2 linked regions of the Homo sapiens genome follow. The protein of the gene in region 2 interacts with the protein of the main gene of each other region in a pairwise test. Each region holds a gene or a part of one and is shown on either strand. Other genes may lie near its edges. The genes, in order: CSNK1A1 and FAM83C.

Region 1 (3,791 bases), on a different chromosome or scaffold from region 2:
TCCTGAGCCCAGGAGTTTTAAGTCCAGCCTGGGCAACATAACAGCAAGACCCCATCTCAAAAAAAAAAAAGCATATCTTTTGTTTATTTTTTTAATAGACAAAGTCTCACTATGTTGCCCAGGTTTATTTGGAACTCCTGGCTTTAAGTGATCTTCCTGCCTCAGCCTCCCAAAGTGTTAGCATTATAGATGTGAGCCACCTCGTCTGGGCCAGAGCATACATTTTAGATTTCAGATTGGGTGGCGGGCAGGGATAGAATATCCTTGTTAGTTATATAAAAATAAACTTTTTTTTGCTTTTTGCAGATTTGAAATTTAATTAAGCTATTAACTTCTTAATCATCACATCCTCCAACTCTGTTTTAACTCCCCCCTCCCCCTCCCCTTTTTTTTTAAGGAATAAAGGGATTCATTCCTCATTTTAACTGATGTTACAGTGAAGATGGGTTCTTGAACTCTTGGAAGCCTGGATGAGCCACCTAATCTGCAAGATAAAAACCAAAGACCAATGCGTATTGGGGAAAAGAATGCTTAGTACTGCAAGACTGTTGAATACCTGTTGAATATTCCTATTGAGGTTTTTTCCTAAACATACTTCAGTAACATCTTAGGACAATTCACTGGAGAAATGTTGATCCCTGGCTGGAATGTCATACCATTGACCCATTTGAAGAGTTAAAGCTGGATTTGACTGCTCTATTCTACCAGGAATATTGTTAGGGTAGCCTTTTACCAGTTTCTAAACAATTGTAATCATTTATTGACTCAGCAATTCCTCAGATAACAGGTCAAAAGATGTACAGATACATTCTGAAGTTTTCTTGCTATTAAAGGCACAAGAGTTTCCTTGTATTTTGACTGACAATGTAGCATGTTTCCATTTTAGTTTGTTAGTGATGGTGGTTTTCCCTTTGAAAGCCATTTGGTATATTCACCATAACAATTAGTTTAATATGATTACATAAGAAAACTATGATAAAACCCAGCAATTTTAGTAGTTGTGAAAATACGTTTTTTAAATCATGTTTAAGAAGAATTGCAAGACTTGAAACCAAATCCTGATGGGGGAATTCTGTTTAATCCTGTTTAATCTGTTTAATTTCTGTTTAATCCTTAGTTTCTTAACCTGCATAGCTTATCCTGTATTGTACTTTTTTTCTTTTTTAAACTCCCAAACAAGAAGCTTGAAACTTTTCCTGTATTTTAAAATTGAAATTTGGTCACAGGGTATAGTCAGATTTTTATTAAGGTTTGGTTTGACAACCTTTAAAAGAAAGGTTTACCTCGCTAATACTTCTTAATAACATGCATCAAATGATATTCCCTATGGTGAAGTATATTCTCAAAGTTATGTTATCTTTCATTTTTGGCATTTGGTGCTTATGGACTTAGTACCCAGGCAACAAAGATCTATTATGCACCTACTCTCTTGTATGTTCGCTATTATTTCCCAAAAAAAAAAAGGGGCATATATGCATAAGAAATAAATATTAGAATTATTTTGTTTCTCCCACAAAGCCCATGGGAGATGGCCCAACAAATGTTTAAAAAGTAAAAGAAGCTGGGCACGGTGGCTCCCACCTGTAACCCCCACACTTTGGGAGGCCATGGCGGGTGGATCACGAGGTCAGGAGTTTGAGACCAGCCTGGCCAACACAGTGAAACTGTGTCTCTACTATAAATACAAAAATTAGCCAGGCATGGTGGCAGGCACCTATAGTCCCAGCTACTCAGGAGGCTGAGGCAGGAGAATCGCTTGAACCCAGGAGGCAGAGGTTGCGGTGAGCCAAGATCATGCCACTGCCCTCCAGCCTGGGTGACAGAGCGAGACTGTCTCCAAAAAAAAAGAAAAAAGAACTAAAAGAAAAGGAGCAGTTTATGATTGAAGAAAACATGACCTGGGCTGAAGAAGTGAGGATTGATTGGAGTGGGCTAGAATGAGCTATAGTTTCTAGCTCATTTGTAAGGAGGTAGACAAAGGAGCATTGGTGCCTCAGAGTGGGTGTCTGGTGAGAGGAAAAACGGTGCTTAAGAGATTTTCAGGCTATTGCTGTGGGACAGGCATATTTTCTCCCTTTGCCTTTAGCTGTAGATAAAGTGTGGTTATGACCTGAGGCTTCTTGTATTCAAACTTGGCCTAGGGCCTATGTAGAGGCCCTAGGGTCTACTTGTGGTGGAGGAGGGAAGTATTTGTAGAATGTGTAGGCTTGAGAAGTAAATAAAGCCAAAAAAGCATCACTTGCTTACATTTTTAAATGAGTCACAAAACAATCTTTCTAATGCGGCCGGTAAAGAAGTTTTAAAGGTCTAAGGTTTCTCTACAGAAATTACATGCTTCTCAGGTCTTTGTTTAGTAAAATAATACAGATAATTATGCTTTGAATGCATTTATTATTAAAGCTAACCGTTTTAATTTGTGTCAGAAATAATTTGTGCCTATGGTAGGATTAAAATTGTATTCTTTAGTTAAAGCAAAGCAATCTGTTTTTCATTGATTTGATAAATATGTGAATGCCTAATATGTTCTGCATATGTAAAAATGCAGAAACATGCTCATTTGAATTACTAATAATTATTTTAGTATGCTGAGAGGCTTTGAATTCACTGTACCACTCCTTCCTAGAGTCATTCAAAACAGAAAAAATTAGTTTTAAGTATAGATTCATGTTTTTCTGTTTTAAAAAGTTGAGCTAATACTTTTCACAAGAGACGAAATAACATGAGCCACTATAATTATTGGCTCAGTTCCACCCAATTTCCATATTTTGGGTGTAATTTAAAATTTTTGACTTGGAATTTTAACTTTTTTTTTGTTTTGATTTTTTACCAGGTTTCTAAGCATGAATTGAGGAACAGAAGAAGCAGAGCAGATGATCGGAGCAGCATTTGTTTCTCCCCAAATCTAGAAATTTTAGTTCATATGTACACTAGCCAGTGGTTGTGGACAACCATTTACTTGGTGTAAAGAACTTAATTTCAGTATAAACTGACTCTGGGCAGCATTGGTGATGCTGTATCCTGAGTTGTAGCCTCTGTAATTGTGAATATTAACTGAGATAGTGAAACATGGTGTCCGGTTTTCTATTGCATTTTTTCAAGTGGAAAAGTTAACTAAATGGTTGACACACAAAAATTGGTGGAGAAATTGTGCATATGCCAATTTTTTGTTAAAACCTTTTGTTTTGAACTATACTGCTTTGAGATCTCATTTCAGAAGAACGGCATGAACAGTCTTCAGCCACAGTTGTGATGGTTGTTAAATGCTCACAATTGTGCATTCTTAGGGTTTTTCCATCCCTGGGGTTTGCAAGTTGTTCACTTAAAACATTCTTAAAATGGTTGGCTTCTTGTCTGCAAGCCAGCTGATATGGTAGCAACCAAAGATTCCAGTGTTTGAGCATATGAAAGACTCTGCCTGCTTAATTGTGCTAGAAATAACAGCATCTAAAGTGAAGACTTAAGAAAAACTTAGTGACTACTAGATTATCCTTAGGACTCTGCATTAACTCTATAATGTTCTTGGTATTAAAAAAAAAGCATATTTGTCACAGAAATTTAGTTAACATCTTACAACTGAACATGTATGTATGTTGCTTAGATAAATGTAATCACTGTAAACATCTATATGATCTGGGATTTTGTTTTTATTTTGAAATGGGAGCTTTTTTGTTTACAAGTTCATTAAAAACTAAAAACTGTTTCTGTAAGGAAATGAGATTTTTTTTAAACAACAAAAAATGCCTTGCTGACTCACTATTAAATAAAAATCTCCCCAATTTTTTGATAGACTA
Region 2 (4,390 bases):
AGCTAATCTGTATTTTTAATAGAGATGGAGTTTCACCATGTTGGCCAGGCTGGTCTCAAACTCCTGACCTTGTGATCTGCCTGCCTTGGACTCCCAAAGTGCTGTGATTACAGGCGTGAGCCACCACGCCCAGTCGCTAGTTTTTTTTTAATTCTAATTTTTTGTAGAGATGGGGTTCTCACAAGCTGGTCTTGAACCCCTGGCCTCAAGCGATCCTCCCACCTCAGCCTCCCAAAGCACTGGGATTACAGTCAAATCCCAGCCCAGATTTGACTGTCTTGAACCCCTAGCTGTTTGAAAGCATTTGTGTGCATCCTTCTGTGCACCGAGTGTTTATCCATCATCAGATTCTCAAAGATGACTGTGGATCAGCTGTGCTAGTCCAACACTCCCTCTGCACTGAGCCCCAGATGGGACAGCAGTGAGAAGGAGAACCCAGACCCCAATTCCCAGGCAAGTTCCTGGCACTCCCCCGACTAACTCCAGCCCAGCTCTGACCCAGGGACTGTCTGTCTGAGGCTCCCTTCTCCAGGGTCACAGCTACAAGCCACTTACTGGGGTCTTCGCTGCCCTTTCCCAGTCCTGCCTCAGTTTCCCTGTGAAGCCACAGAGGTCTGGTGTGACCCCTTACACTGCAGACTCCCTTACTTGCACCCATGCCAAATGGATCCAAGTTTTCTGCTCAGTTGAGGGCTGGGCTGGGGCTTGTGCCTCCATCCCATATAAAGGGCTGCCTCAAAGAGGCCCCTGAAACCTTCTTGGCACCTCCCAGCCCCCAGCTGGCCTTTCTTCCCATGGCATATATCTGCTATGAGAGTCTTCTCTCCCAGGCAGGGCCGAGAGGCAGGAGGTACAGAGCATAGCACTCCAGCTCTGGAGTCAGAAAGAACTGGGTTCAAACCTGGACTCTATCACTTCCTGGTGACACAGCTTTGGGTGAGTCCCTTCACCTCTGGAAGCCTCACCTTCCTCATCTGTTAAATGGAGATAATGATAGCCATGTCTCAGAGTTACAGGGAATTAAATGTGAAAATGCTCAAGACATAACAGAGCTCTATAAACATTGGGCTGCAGGGCAACGCAGCATTTCCCAAGGTCACTAGGAGTCATGACAGCCCAGTGCACGAACCTGGCTCCTGACCCAGGATAGAGGGGTCTAAATGGGGGCTGAGAAGGCGAGGCACTGGGGGATGCCCTAGTTCACAGCACAGGCCTGGCCAGGGTGGGGGAACAAGGACAGGCAGGAAGATCAAAGAGGCAGGGGTGAGGAGGACGACAGCAGCAGCCTCACTAATAACCCCATTCCTGATGCCAATCAGGCCTGGCCGTCCCCTGCCTGGGGCACAGGAAGGCTTGCCAGGGAGGCTCTGGAAGTACCGGTGGGATCCCAGCATCCTGGCTTCCCATCTCTGCAGCAGGAGCCTAACTCTCCCTCAAACCCTGCCAGGGATCATCTCGTCCATTCCCCTGGAGTCGGAGGCCAGGGCTTCAGAAGGGAAGCTGTGCTCGTGTGTGGCCAGAGCCTTTCTGGGTGCTGACCACCCCTACCTGCCCTCCCAATTCTCTTTCTCCTGAGCTCCCGCTCCCCATCACTGAGCCCAGCAGCCTCCTCTCCTCCTTCCTCCTTGGTTCCAAAGCCCAGCCCTCAAGGCCACGCCAAAGAGGCCCACACGCTGGCCCCTTCCCCTGCTTCAGGCCCAGCTGCAGATGTGGTGCAGGAGGGTAGGGGGCAACTAGGGACCTGAGCCAGCAAGGAGGGCCGGACTGGTCCCCAGGACCCAAGTCAGAGAGCCCCTGTCTCCCCAAGCCCTGAGCTCTATGTCACCATATGGACCTCCCTGGGCAAGTCCCAAGCCCCTCTCTGGCCTCAGTTTCTTCTTCTATAAGTGAAGGAGGTGACTCAGATGTTCCCCAAGGTTGGAGTTCTTAGTGTGGGGATCATAAAACTTTTTGAGAATCTGATTTAAGGCAGTGGAGCATCTTCCAAGGTAAAGATGCAGCGAGGACTCCTCCCTCCAACCTGCACCACTTCGTGTGCATTTCAGGGGATTGTGGAGTCCCTGACACCCATGCCCTGTTCTATGCTCATCCATACTATTCCTGGGTACCAAGCAGTTGCCAAGGTAAATATGGGATGTCCCCCTTCTAGGAGTTTGCAATCTAATAGTGCCAGAGGTGCTGGTCCTCATTCTGCCCCTAAGTCGCTGTGTGGCCTTGGGCTGGTCCCTTCCCTCTCTGGACCTCAGTTTCCTCCTCTGTGAGATGAGTGATGGAGAGATGAGGCCCTTACCGTGTGGGCCTGGCTGAAAAGGAAGCGCAGCAGGTCCTTGATGTTCTTGGCCTTGTCCCTCTGGAAGTGGACCACAGCCTGGGTGGGGCTGAAGCCTGTGGCCTGTGGCACCTCGGGCCAGCCCAGGTCCAGGTCTGGGGGGTCTATGTCAGAGGCCATGGGGAAGTAAGTCCCTGAGGTGACTTCAGAGAGCAGGCTGAGGCGGTCTGGCCCGGAGGCCTCCTGCCCCTGAGCCTCGCTGAGCTCAGGGCCCCCGCGCACATGGCTGGTCATGTAGTCCACATCCAGGGCGCTCAGGAAGGGCAGCTCCCGCTCCTCGGAGATGACCCGCAGGTAGGCAGCCTCACCCCGCTCCAGGAGGGCGTCGGCCGCCAGCCGAGCCGCCTCGCTGTGCCGCAGCACCAGCGGTGAGCTCTCCCGCCACCACGGCAGCTTCAGCTCTTCCACCCGGCCCCGCAGGGGTCCCGCCATGCCCTGGGCTCCCAGGACCCCAGGCCCCGGGCCTCCGAACATGCCTGCCACGCGGCTGCCTCACCCGCCGGCAGGGCCCATGGCCCGCACGCTGGGCTGGCTGCAGCAGGAAGAGGAGACCAGCAGAACCGCCTTCTGCCCGCCCGCTCGCTGTGTGTGTGGCAGGGCCCCCAAACTGTTGCCACCCTAAATCAGAGCCACGCTCCACCCTATTGCCCCTGGCCTCTGGAACCTGTCAGGTCAGCCCCACCTGTCTGCCTGTGTTGGGACTCGCCTGCCCAGGGAAGCGGCAGTGCCAGGCCCTCGGTGCACACTCCTGCCTCCCTCTCTTCCTCCCAGCAACGCCGCCCCATCCCCACCAGGCTCCCAGCAAGTCTCCAAATGCTGACTTCCCGGGACCCACAGAGGTTGAATTACAGCCAAGAGGGGCCCAGGCGACTCAGGAACACACACTCACACGCACACGCACACACACTGCAGGTGGGTGAGCGACTCAAGACACCCAGGAAAAGACATGAACACCCATGCAGATGGACACACTGACAACTGACCGATACACAGACATGGAGTGTGGGCTGACACAGACCGACCACACATTGTAATCACATCCACTTGCATAAACTCTTCACCCAAACGCCGATGTAGAGACCGGCCATGACCCCCACAACACATACCACAGTGGATAGCACGTGCCCTGGCTCAAGTCTGCAAGGCCCTGAGAGCTGAACGACTGTCACATGGAATATCCAAGGACATCAACGCTGGTCTGTCCCCCAGCCAGCCCTCTTTTTGCTCCCATAATCGTCCTGCCACTCTCCATCATCTTAACTGTGGTGCTCACAGCCCCCTGGCTCTCTCCCACCCCGGCTCGGAGCTGTCCTTCAAGAACCTAGAGCAGTGGCTCTCACCCTGACCCCAGGGGTGGTGAGAGGTGATGAAATGCAGATCCCCGGGCCCCACCCTCCTGGAAATTCTCATCCAGAAGGTGTCCGTAGGCTTCTGGAGCTTGTCTTTTTTCTTTTTCTTTTTGAGATAGGGTCTTGCTCTGTCACCCAGTCTGGAGGGCAGTGGCGCAATCACAGCTCACTACAGCTGTGCCTCAGTTTCTCTGGACTCGAGCGATCTTCCCACCTCAGCCTCCTGAGTAGCTGGGATTACAGGTGCATGTTACCATGCTCGGCTACTTTTAAAATTTTTTTAGAGATGGGATCTCACTATGTTGCCCAGGCTGATCTTGAACTCCTGGCCTCAAGCAATCCTCCTGTCTCAGCCTCCCAAAGTGCTGGGATTACAGGTGTGAGCCGCCACACCTGGCCATTTTTCTTTTTTAATTGAGACATGATCTTGCTCTGTCACCCAGGCTAGAGAGAGCAGTGATGTGATCATAGCTTACTGTAACCTCAAATTCCTGAGTTTTTAAACAAGTGCCCAGTGCACTGTGGGCAGTGGGCTAAGGCCCACCCCTGAGACATGCTGTTCCAGATGGCTGTGCTTGCAACACCCTTAACTCCAGGGATGTTCTTGGCCTGGTGGTGGCCAGACCCCAGCCTTCTTCCCCTCCTCCAGGGCTGAGTATGAAAATGGTTGGAAGGTTGTTTCAGAGAATGGGCGGACACACTGCAAGGTCAG

What was found.
Region 1: the proteins of FAM83C (region 2) and CSNK1A1 interact in binary tests that used the Homo sapiens proteins (3 or more experiments, as listed by UniProt).

What each region holds. Positions count from the first base shown.
Region 1 is NC_000005.10:149,495,900-149,499,690, reverse strand, and holds part of CSNK1A1 (casein kinase I isoform alpha), read left to right. Parts: intron 1-2,830; coding exon 2,831-2,838; 3' UTR 2,839-3,791.
Region 2 is NC_000020.11:35,289,502-35,293,891, forward strand, and holds the start of FAM83C (protein FAM83C), read right to left. Parts: upstream 2,925-4,390; 5' UTR 2,804-2,924; coding exon 2,291-2,803; intron 1,138-2,290; exon of another isoform or gene 902-1,137; intron 1-901. UniProt on the Homo sapiens protein: May play a role in MAPK signaling.